3 linked regions of the Homo sapiens genome follow. The protein of the gene in region 2 interacts with the protein of the main gene of each other region in a biochemical or structural test. Each region holds a gene or a part of one and is shown on either strand. Other genes may lie near its edges. The genes, in order: LRRC7, CDH2 and GNA12.

Region 1 (3,750 bases), on a different chromosome or scaffold from region 2:
GCCAGGAGTACTGGCACATGGACAAGCTTATAAAGATAATTACATGACACACAAATATCATTTGGGGATGTACTTTAAGCATAAGTCTTATTTTCTACTCTATTTTAGATAAGCTTCCAAAACAAAACTCTTCATCTTTATATCTTACATAAAAATAATGTTGATTTTTAGGAGCAACTATTTCTCTTTATGGATTGCAAGACACATGACTAGTAAAGCAGATCTGGTAACCAGCTAATTGAAATGAGCTAAGAGCAGTCAGATCCTAAGGAAGTTTCAATGAACTGGTTTAGTTGCTGTGTTCATTTATTGCATGAACACAATTTAAACATCTAGTCCAATGATCTCTGGACTCAAATTATTTCATGGTCTAAGTCAACCATAAATAGATACTTGCAAATAAGACCATTCTTTCTTTTCAAGTTGAGTTTCCCTAACCAATATCCCTAAATCCTTTTTCAATAATTAAATCTTCTCTTCTATGATCACATTATTCATTTAAAAAGGTTAAAAGAGCTTTTTGTCCTTTGCTATTTGAAACTTAGCATAGGCTCCTTAGCCCAAGCCAACACAAGCTGATATGAACATTTTCTATAGTTATGGAGTAACAATAATTCTTGGAAGAGTAAACTTATTTTAATCCAGCCATGGATTAAATCTACTCAATCCATGTGAATGAGGCCAACTTGTAAAAGAAACCATTTGTTTATGTATTTCTTATTTCCAGGGATAATTATAATAAATGACTTTAGTCTTTGACCTCCAAATGTAAGTGAATCATTTTGGAATATTTTAGGATATTTTTCTTTAAATTTTGTCTACAGAAGTAGGAAAAGAAAAGATTGTTTTAATATGTATTTTTATAAGTCAATAAAATTAACCTTTTGAATTGATAAAAGAAAAACCACCATGTTTACACATTTTATAAGAGACATCTTAAGTAAGGATTATGTTATATTCATGCAGCTTTACTTATATTTTCATTTTAATAGCTCTACATTATCAAAATATTTAACTTCAAAAGAATATAGGGAAAAAGTGAAAAGTATCTCATATTCACTGGTCATTTCTGAGATATGATCTCACAGATTGAATCCCTAATTTGTCCCAAGGTAGATTCAGTTAGGTAAGGTGTAGTGTTAAGGAATTAGCCTAGCTGAGTTTGCTTTTGTTTTTGTTTTTTTCTTTGAGAAAAGAAAGGTTGGTAATTGAAAAGTTTCCTCGAACTTAAATTAAGTCATCCTTTGGTTTTCCAGGCAGGAGTGTAATAAATGAGTTTTCAGAATCCCTTGTAACAAAGAAAGACATATATGATAAAGGACCTCCTTTGGAAAAGAATTTAGCCTTAACTAAGTACTTTTATTGCATTTTCATGTGATCTTTGCCATAATGTTGCAAAGAAGATATTATCATTAGCCAACATTTTATGTAAAAAAAAGATTCATAAGCCATTTCCCTGTTAATTTGACATATTTAAACTAACTGCAACAGACTAAATTTTCCACGTTTTCTACCAAAAAACAAGCTCCCCTCATTGACCCCACAATAAAAGGAAAAGGTTGCAATCTTAGATACCTTATTGCAAAGTCAATGTTATGTGGTAACTTTTATAAAAGAAATTTGTATAGAGTTTAGCAGTTACAAATAAGGATTCTATTTAGACAGGAACAGAATCCTGCACTAGCCACTGAGAAGTCTCTTAACACTTTGAGCAAGTCCCTTAAAACTCATTAGTAAAGTAAGGATGAGATTAGTAATACCATTGTGTTGTTGTAAGGATTGAAAAAGATAACGCTTTAAAATGCTTGGTCTAACTCTCTATATTATTATTATTGTCCTATGGGGACCCCATTTCCTACACTAGAAAATTTCCCGATCCTGAGTATTTTAGGAATACTGAATTTGAGTTAAGATTACAAAAGACCATGTAATAAATATCAAGGGAATTTTATTCTTTTCTCTTTCCTTCTTTCTCTTTCTTTTTTTCTTTCTTTCTTCTTTATTTCCGTATTTGTTTGTAGTATCTATCACCATTTTTGCATACTATATTAAATACTTTGTGTAAAATTGTTTTTTAAAAAAACAATAATACTTTGGAATCTAACTGTAGATTTCCAGTCAGACAGTGACAGCTTTAACCCTACACTGTGGGAAGAGCAGAGACAACAACGCATGACTGTTGCCTTTGAATTTGAAGACAAAAAAGAAGATGACGAAAATGCTGGGAAAGTTAAGGTGAACCTTTTAGCTTTTGTTTCCTCTTTCTTCTCCTTATCTTTTTGTTTGTCCGTTTTTCTTATTCAGATAGATTTTGGGACAAAGTCAGATACTTCTTCAAGTCTCATGGCGGTACCTTTCATTACAGCATGCTGGTAGTTCTGGAAGCATTGGTGTGCTTCAGAATGAGACTAATGTCCCAAATCTGAGTGAGCAAATTTGAAATGCCACTTCATCCAACAGAATAACTGCATGAGAGAGATTCAAGCTGAGGGAAAGTAGAAAAAAAAATCTGTGTGATAGACTTCATCTAAGAACCTTATTTCATTGTTGACATGCTACACACTACGATGATTTTTTTTAATCACTGAGCAAAGCGTCATGCAGACTGAATAAGGCCAAAATAAACATTTCTGGAAGGGCCAACAGATTAATATGTTACATTGGCATTAAAATCTCTGAAAAGTTCTGTGTCCTTGGGCTATTCAAGAAGAATTTATGAGTTTCCTTAAATATGAGAACAAATTTTAAGGAAGATTAGTGCCTAATGGCAGGTGATGTTCCTTAGGGAACATAACTTCAATTTTTTTTACCTCAAAGTATGTTTTAAAAGATCTTTTATAGGGACTACTAGGTCAAGTAACAAGATTGAATTTTAAAATATGTATTTCTCCATTACTTACATTTTTAATTATCATCAGAATTGATTTAGATTTTCTCAACATCACATTTTCATGTTGGCATGGCAACATCTTGAATCTCTCATTTACTTTTTATAACATTGTATGTGTACTTTTTCTATCATGGCTACTAACAGCTCTCACTCTTAGTGACTAATTACCTTTATAATTGCATATGTGTTCTATTAATAAAGCTAGATTGTGTGTTATGTTTGTCTCTGTCCTCTCCTTTCCACATTTTCTAAACTTTATTTCTTAAATCAGCACATGAGCACTTACTGGCAAGGCCTACCAATATCGTTACGGAGAACCCAAAATGGATTCCCAAATCCAAAATAACAATTTTGTTAAAGATTTGGGTTTTAAAAAAAATGTCTCTAGATAGTTGATTAGTGCTGTCTAACAACCAAAGAGACATCTTTTTGAACTTGTGAATTCCTAGAAAAAATAATGCTAAACTGAAAACATACCTTCAGAACATTTCAGTTCTTTTACGGATTTTGTATGTTAAATCCAGAACCAATGGATGATGCATTCTATACCGGACTTCTGATTCATCTTTATATTTCATTGAATTACCAAAAATTGCATGCTTCTTCCTGAAATTCTGTATTCAAAGAATGCAAGAAGAAAGTGCATTTAATATACTCTGGTATATGTGTCAATGAAAACGTAAAATATAGTAAATACTTACAGTTATTTAGAAGCCCTGTTTGTGTGTTATGTGTTCAAGTTTGTTTATAATCAGAGTAGGTTCATTATACTTTAGAGTGTTTTTTCTCTGTATTTACATTTGGTTTATTTATGTATTAATGAAACAATGTGTGTTTCAAAATCTCAAACTACTCAGTTT
Region 2 (3,750 bases):
GAACGCTGGGACCCTGGCCTGGGAGGCAGGGGTGGGGAGAGACAAAGTGAGAGAGCACGACCCGGGAGGAGAGCGTGGAGCCGGGCAGGGACAGGCGTGCCGCACCATGGCGCACCATGGACAGGGCTCCGCGCGGCGGCGGCCCACGACCGTCTAGGGGTTGCGGGAGAAAGCGCGAGAGACTGCGGAGGCCAGCCCCGTCCAGCCCCTGCCCCCGCCCCAGCAGCACTCACCCCCCGGCGGGCCGGAGCGCGCCAGGCCCTGACCCGTGAAGACCACGGAGCGGGGTAATCCACACCACCTGTCTCCACCCCCGGAGCAGGCACTTCCGAGCTGCGTCCGCACTTTTCGGGGCTGCCAGCTGGCAGTAGAGCACCTCTCCCCTTGCCCCGAGGGCGACAGGCAGGGGGACCCTCCGTGGATTTTCCTGCCCCGCGGCGAGGGTGGGCACGCCCCTTTCCCGCAACCTTCGAGGGACCCCACGGCAGGCGGAGACCGACTTGGGACCAGGGCACTGCACCCGCCCAGCTAGAGGGTCCCGGCCGAGGCTGTGTGAAGTGGCCTCCAGGCCTGGGCTGGCTGGTCGGGAGGAGCCTGGGGGCATCCTCGGGTTGGAGGCGGCGGAAAGTTGGGCTGCCCCCGGGCTGGGAACCCGCAGCGTGCAGTGGCGAGGGAACCTGCGCCCGGACTGGAGCAGGTGCTTCCTGCCGCGGAGGAGCCTCTTAGTAGAGATTAAATGAAAAGGCTCGCTGGCTCTCTCCCGAGGGTATGAAAAGTACGGAAGGCTCCAGGCAAAGGCGCCCCCGGGGCGCATATAGGGCACAGGCAGCCGGACAGAGAAAGGAGCAGCCGCGTAACGGAACTTCTCGCCCGGGGGAGATACTAGGCGTGAGAGGCCAGACTCGTTCTACAGGCAGGCGCTGACCGGCAGAGACTCCTCCGGGCAAGAGGGCCAGATTTTCTTTCCAGGTGGGACGAACACAGAATATTGTGAGGGCAAGAGAAGAAGAAAAGGAGGCAACTCCAGACTGGGATAAAGACAATAGGACAGTAGAGCCCTTGAGCACCGGGAGGCGCACGGGTGCAGGGTGGGGTAAGGTGGAGGCAAGTCCCGTAACTAAGACACCAGAGTGAGAATTCCTACTGTAAACTCGCGACCCATCCCTGCAGAAATAAACAAAAAAATTGGAGCAAAGTACTATGCGAGGGGCGAAAGGCACAGAAAACTGCAAAACCTGGGAGTTATCCTGCCTCACCCTCCTGCTGCCTGGGGACACCCCCCGCGAGCTTGCTCGGCCCCGAAGAAGGAGCAGAGGGGACCCGCAATCCAGCCCCTAGAGCCCCGCCAGGAAAGGCGCGAGAGACCTACTGGCCCCGGCAACCCTGCCCCGGCGCCCGGACGGAGCCCGATGCCTGCGCAGCTACCGGCCGCGCGGCGCGGCGCGGCGCGGCGTGGCACCTCCCTTCCCGGGTGCGCAGCCCGGCCCCGCAGCGGCGCGGGGAACAAAGGGACCCGGCGCCGCCCGCCCCACCCCGCCCGTGGCCCGGCCCGCGGGGACCGCCGCGTACCTGAAGCAGGGCCGCCAGCAGCGGCAGCAGGGTCCGCAGCGCTCCCGCTATCCGGCACATGGAGGCGGAGAGGGGCCGAGCGAAGAGCCGGAGGAGGCGGCGGCGGCGGCGGCGGCGGCGGAGGAGGAGGAGGCAGCGGCAGCACCAACAGCGGCGCGGAGAAACGGCTCCAGGCAGTTTCCACCCCCTTCCCTTCCCCTCCCCTCCCCACCCCCTTCTTCGCTGCTCTCCGCTCCCCGCCAATGGAGAGCGAGCTGATGACAAATAGCGGGCCGCGGAGTCCGCGGGACTCGCACCAGGAGTAATAAAACAGACCCAGAGATCAAGGAGCTGGGGAGGGGGCGGGGGAACAGGGAGGGAGAGCGTGTGAGCGTCTGCGAGTGTGTGGAGGCGGCTGCTGTGGCAGCGCAGGCGGCTCGGCTCCGGCCCGGAGCGCAGCGGAAGCCGCGAGGGATGCAGCGGCGGGGACCTTGGCCGGTGGAGGATGTGGAGGTGGAAGTGGAGCGGATGGCGCTCCCCAAGAGCTCCGCCACGCGAGGTTTCGGGCTCGTGGTTTTGCTTCCTCCGGGTCCCCGCTCCAGGGCCGCTCGGCGCGACGAAGACGCCGGGGACAGCGCCGCGGGGAGGGCGCTCCGGGTCGTGCGTGCTGCACCCACAAAGAGCAGCAGTCCCGCCACTCCGCGCCTCCGCTGCGTGGGGGCCGAGGGGCGCTTCTCGGCTCCTCTTTCCGGTCCCCCGGCGAGTTGGAGACTGTTCTCCGGCCTCGGCCGCAAGGGGGTGAGGCGAGGGGCCGGCGCGGTCTCTCCCGCCGCGGCTCCGTCCCGCGCAGCTGCTGCCGCAGCCGCCCCTGCTGCCCGCGCACCGGCACCCGCCCGCCGGTCCTCGCCCTGCGCCGCTCACTCGCGCGCGCCGCCCTCCGTCGCCGACCGCGCACCCCGCTCGGCCTCCGCTGCGCGACCTGGGCGAGCCGCCGCCGCTCTCCCCGCGCTCGCCCCACGCGCTGCCTGGCTGCGCGGCCCGCTCCCCTCTCCTATTCCTCCCGCCGCCGCCGCCGCCCTCGCCCCCGCCTCCCTCCTCCGCCGAGCCTCCCCGCCCGCGTCGTGGCCAATCGGAGGCCACCAAGCTGCGGCTGTAGCCGGCCGGATCCGCGGCAGCCGCCCGCCCCCGCCCCGCCGAAGCGCCCCGTATTTTGCTGCAGCCCGCGGGGGGTCGCCGGAGGGAAGCCTAGAGTGCGCCGAGCACCGCCCCGGCAGGTGGAGGGGCTGCGGGAAATAAAATAACTTGGGCAGGAACTTGATTGGTAGCAGGTTCATCTTTGGTCCGCGGTAGGGAATCTAATGGAGATGAAGAATGGTGGGGAAGGGGGGGCGGTGTCTCCTTGGGAGCCTAACGTACGCTTCTTTATTTTGTCATTCTTTGGAGATGGGTAATCTTTCCTGGCAGGGGCAGACACAGCAAACTAAGGACGCAGGCCAAGCTCATCCTAGCTATTGTTGTCTGAGGCGCTCGCCGGGAGCCACCTGCGGGCGGGGGAGGGCGGAGGCCGCGGCTCCTCTCTGGAGCTCGCACCTTCAGCTCCCACCCTTGAGGATGTACTGGAACAGCCCAAGTTTTTGTGTTCTTGTTTTGTTTTCTTTTGTCCCCTCTGGGAGTTTGAGAGTGCATGTTTGTTATTTTATTTGAAATCTCCCGTTTTCTATTTCTATTACTACCTGTTAGTGGTACTGTTCACATTTGGGGCCAACAGTTTCAGGGTACTTTTACCCTCTCCTACCACCCCTAACAACAATTTTTAAAAAAGAGAGAAACTAAAAGCCGGAACTTGAGAAAATAGGATTATATAAAAGATAAAATGACTGATACAGAATTCTCACCACGTAAAGGATTTCTGCTGGCTTCCTTTAAGGCATGAACTTCAAGTGCAACACAGTGAGAGACTTTACAAGTTTGAGTCACAAGCATTTGTGGAATGGAGCGGGGGATGGGGAGCAGTTTTTGTTTTTTCTAATTCTGGTGAGGTAATAAATTTTCCGGAACCTTTTTTAAGAAAGGTTTACAAGTAAATAGAAATATCCGTTTTATGTAAGCTTTTCAACACTTGGGAGATCGGTGAACTTCATTGCAGTTAATGAATATTTTCTGCCTTTATTGCTTGCTTTTCTGCTTTGGGTGACTGAAATA
Region 3 (3,750 bases), on a different chromosome or scaffold from region 2:
TAAGCACCACAGAAAGAAGTCTGCTTTCTGCTATCATTCATTTGCAAAGCTACTGGAAAAAAGACAACTGGGCGGGGAGGAGGTGGCAACAATTTCAGAAAATTTCACTGGAAAATGAAGTGTATCAGTAAAAAAACAACTTTTTTTTTTTTTTTTTTCTTAGATGGAGTTTCACTCTTTTTGCCCTGGCCTGGAGTGCAATGGAGTGATCTCGGCTCACTGCAACCTCCGCCTCCCAGGTTCAAGCAATTCTCCTGCCTCAGCCTCCTAAGTAGCTAGGATTACAGGTACCTGCCACCAGGCCCGGCTAATTTTTTATTTTTAGCTGAGATTACAGACCACCACGGACTGCTAATTTTTGTATTTTTAGTAGAGAGGGGGGTTCCACCATGTTGTCCAGCCTGGTCTCGAACTCCTGACCTCAGCTGATCCGCCCGCCTCAGCCTCCCCGCCAAAAAAACAATGTTTTAACAACAACTATAGTAGCCTCCACCCCTTATCCGTGGCATAAGTTCCAAGACCCTCAGTGGATGTCTGAACGGTACCAAGCCCTACCTGTATTGTTTTTAAAGTTTAATTTAATTTATGAATTAGGCACAGTAAGAGATTAATAATAGCTAATAATAAAATACAACAATTATAACAATATACTGTCATGAAAGTTAAGTAAATATGGTCTCTCCTTCTGTCTCTCAAATGTGGTATCACCGTCCGCGCCTATTTTCCGTTGGCGGCTGGCTGTGGATAACGGGAGATGACTGTACTGCCAAGAGTACTACCAGCGCTACTATTGTCATCATCACTGAAATCTGGCAGCTCCTCTATTCCAAAAGATACAACTGCTTCTTCCAGCTTAAAACGGGTGGGAAAACATACAAATCCAGGCAGTCAGCAGTCATGAGACAGGAAAAGACTAAAATACGACAAGCCAAGTAGCCCGCCCACCAAAACGGGAGCCAGGGGATCATGTTCTAGATTTAACGTCACCATCGTTTGTGATGAGAAACTACTTTTCATTCTTTTGCTTGTTTCCTCATTGTTAAAGATAAAGTTAATGTTGTTCTGCCCCTTCTTACCTCATCAACAGGGTCAAAGGGATGAAGAAATAACTAACATAGTATTAGGGAATGCAGCCAGCCTTTGGAAAATATTCTCTCAGCAAAAACAGCACCCCCTGAGCAGTTAGGAGGTCTGTTCCACCATCCTTAGACTAATGTTTCGAAATCAGCAAGGCAGTGTTTATGAGAACTTCTGTGTTCTTCTGAGGGGCACACTGCATACTCTCTGGTATGGTCTACACTGGGGGTATACAGAGTGGTCAAGGGCCCTGAGAAGGCTATCAAGTACACATCTGTCCATCTGGAAAAGCCTTCTCATCTCAGAGCAATCTGAGGGACTCAGGCCAGCTGAGAGCAGCATCCCATCCTCCAGGACAGAGAAAACCAGGGTCACCTGCTCACTAGGCACTTATCTATGTTCCTTTTTTGGAGACTGGGTCTTGCTCTGTCACCCAGGCTGGAGTGCAGTGGCATGAACATGGCTCACTGCAATCTCGACCTTCTGGGCTCAAGTGATCCTTGCCCGTAGCCTCTCAAGGAGCTGGGACCACAGGCATGCCTCGTTACGCCCGGCTAATTTTAAGATTTTCGTAGAGTCAGGGTCTCACTATATTGCCCAGGCTAGTCTCAAACTCCTGAGCTCAACTGATCCTCTGGCCTTAGCCTTCCAAAGCACTAGGAATTACAGGTGTGAGCCACTGCATCCGGCCTTTTTTTTTTTTTCCTTTTTAAATAACAGTTTTACTGTGCTATAATCCATGTACCATATAACTCATCAATTTGAAGTGTACAACTTAATGATTTTTAGTTGGCACTTATCCTAAAAATCTTCATTTCTGACACCCAGGGCAGAGCAGATGAATCCATTCTGCCTCCTTCATCTCTCTCCTGCAGCATCAATTTGGTGCCTATAACTTCCACTTCTGCCTTGAACCACTGAGTCAGACGTAATGATGACCAAAGAGTAGTTGAAAGTCTCCTCCAGACCCAGCTGACCAGGACGGTCTGGTTAGAGATGCTCCCTGATTTTCCCCTCAGGACCTTGTCTGTCTGCCGTTGGAGACCATGCCTAGTTCTACCAATCCACAAACATTTGTTCAGTGTGTTTGTTTGTGGGGGAAACAAACTTTAAGAAGCAGTATCTGACCCCCAGAAACTCAGAGTCTGGCTAGAAAGACAAATGTATGGATAAAAAAAATACTTACCACCCACTCATGATTTTAAAAAACCTTTGCAAACTAGGAACAGAGAAATGCTTCAACTTGATAAAGAACACTGACAAAAAAACATACAGCTAACCTCATAATTAATGTGAAAGACTGAATGCTTTCCCTCCAACACTAGGAAAAGACAAAGATGCCTACTTCTGCTACTGCTATTCAACATGGTTCTGGAAGTTCTAGCCAGTGCGACAAGGTAGGAAAATGAAATAAAAGATCACACAGCTCAGGAAAAGCAGGGGGGAAAACAAATAGATTAGACACACAAAAAAAGAAAACACACAACTAAACCCATTTGCAGATAAAAAGATGATCTATGTTGAAAATCCCAAAGTAATCTACCAAAAAAACTCCTAGAATAAACAAATGAATCCAGAATAGTTGCAGGATATAATGTCAACACACGAAATTCAATTGTCTTTCTATATACTAGCAATGAACATGTGGAAAGTGAAATGAAAGATGTACTACTACTAACTATCACTAAAAAAACGAAACAGGTATAAATCTAACAAAATATGTGTAGGACTTATGTGCTGAAAACTGCAAAATGTTGAGGAAAGAAATTTTCAAAATCTAATAGATATACCACGGTCACGAATTAGAAGATTCAACACGGTACCAATATCCTTAAATTAATAAACAGGTTTAGCACAATTTCCATAAAATCCCAGCAGGATCTTTTGTAGATATAAATATGATTATTTGAAAATTTATATGAAAAAGCATTAAATTAGCTAAAGCAACTTTGAAAAAGAAAAGTGGGAACAATCAGTCTATCTGATTTTAAGACTTATTATATAGCTATGATAATCAAGACTGTGTGGTATTGGTGAGGTGACAGACCCACAGATCAATGGAACATAACAGAGAACCCAGGGATAGCCCCTGATACAGCTAGGTAATTTTTGTAAAAGTGCAAAAGCAATTAAAAAGAGGAAGCCTGGTCTTTTCAACAAACGCTGTTGGAGGAAGTGGACTTCCACAGGTAAAGAAAATTGGGGGGAGCGGGGGAGGGGGTGGGGAAGAACCTTGACCTAAACCTCACAGCTTATACAAAATCAAATCAAAATGTAGAACTATATATAACATAGGAGAATATCTTCAGGATGTAGGGTGTGCTCAAAGTTCTTAGATGTGACTCCAAATACATGATTCACACGAGAAAAATTATCAATAAATTGAACTTGATGAAAACGAAAATATTTTGCTCCGCCAAAGACCCTCTTAAGAGGCTGAAAAGAAGCTATGAACTGGGAGAAAATATTTGCCAACCACACATCTGCCATATCTGACAAAGGACTCATTTAGAATATACAAGGACATTCAAAACTCAACAGTTAGGCCAGGCACAGTAGCTCACGCCTGTAATCCCAACACTTTGTGAGGCTGAGGGGAGAGGATCACTTGGGGCCAGAAGTTCGAGACCAGCCTGGGCAACATAGTGAGACCTCGTCTCTACAAAAATATCA

What was found.
Region 1: the proteins of CDH2 (region 2) and LRRC7 form a complex in vitro, tested with the Homo sapiens proteins (one study listed by BioGRID).
Region 3: the proteins of CDH2 (region 2) and GNA12 form a complex in vitro, tested with the Homo sapiens proteins (one study listed by BioGRID).

Annotation. Positions count from the first base shown.
Region 1 is NC_000001.11:70,018,895-70,022,644, forward strand, and holds part of LRRC7 (leucine-rich repeat-containing protein 7), read left to right. Parts: intron 1-2,110; coding exon 2,111-2,235; intron 2,236-3,750.
Region 2 is NC_000018.10:28,175,394-28,179,143, forward strand, and holds the start of CDH2 (cadherin-2 isoform 1 preproprotein), read right to left. Parts: upstream 1,738-3,750; 5' UTR 1,630-1,737; coding exon 1,570-1,629; intron 1-1,569. UniProt on the Homo sapiens protein: Calcium-dependent cell adhesion protein; preferentially mediates homotypic cell-cell adhesion by dimerization with a CDH2 chain from another cell. Cadherins may thus contribute to the sorting of heterogeneous cell types.
Region 3 is NC_000007.14:2,795,677-2,799,426, forward strand, and holds part of GNA12 (guanine nucleotide-binding protein subunit alpha-12), read right to left. Parts: intron 1-3,750. UniProt on the Homo sapiens protein: Guanine nucleotide-binding proteins (G proteins) are involved as modulators or transducers in various transmembrane signaling systems. Activates effector molecule RhoA by binding and activating RhoGEFs (ARHGEF12/LARG).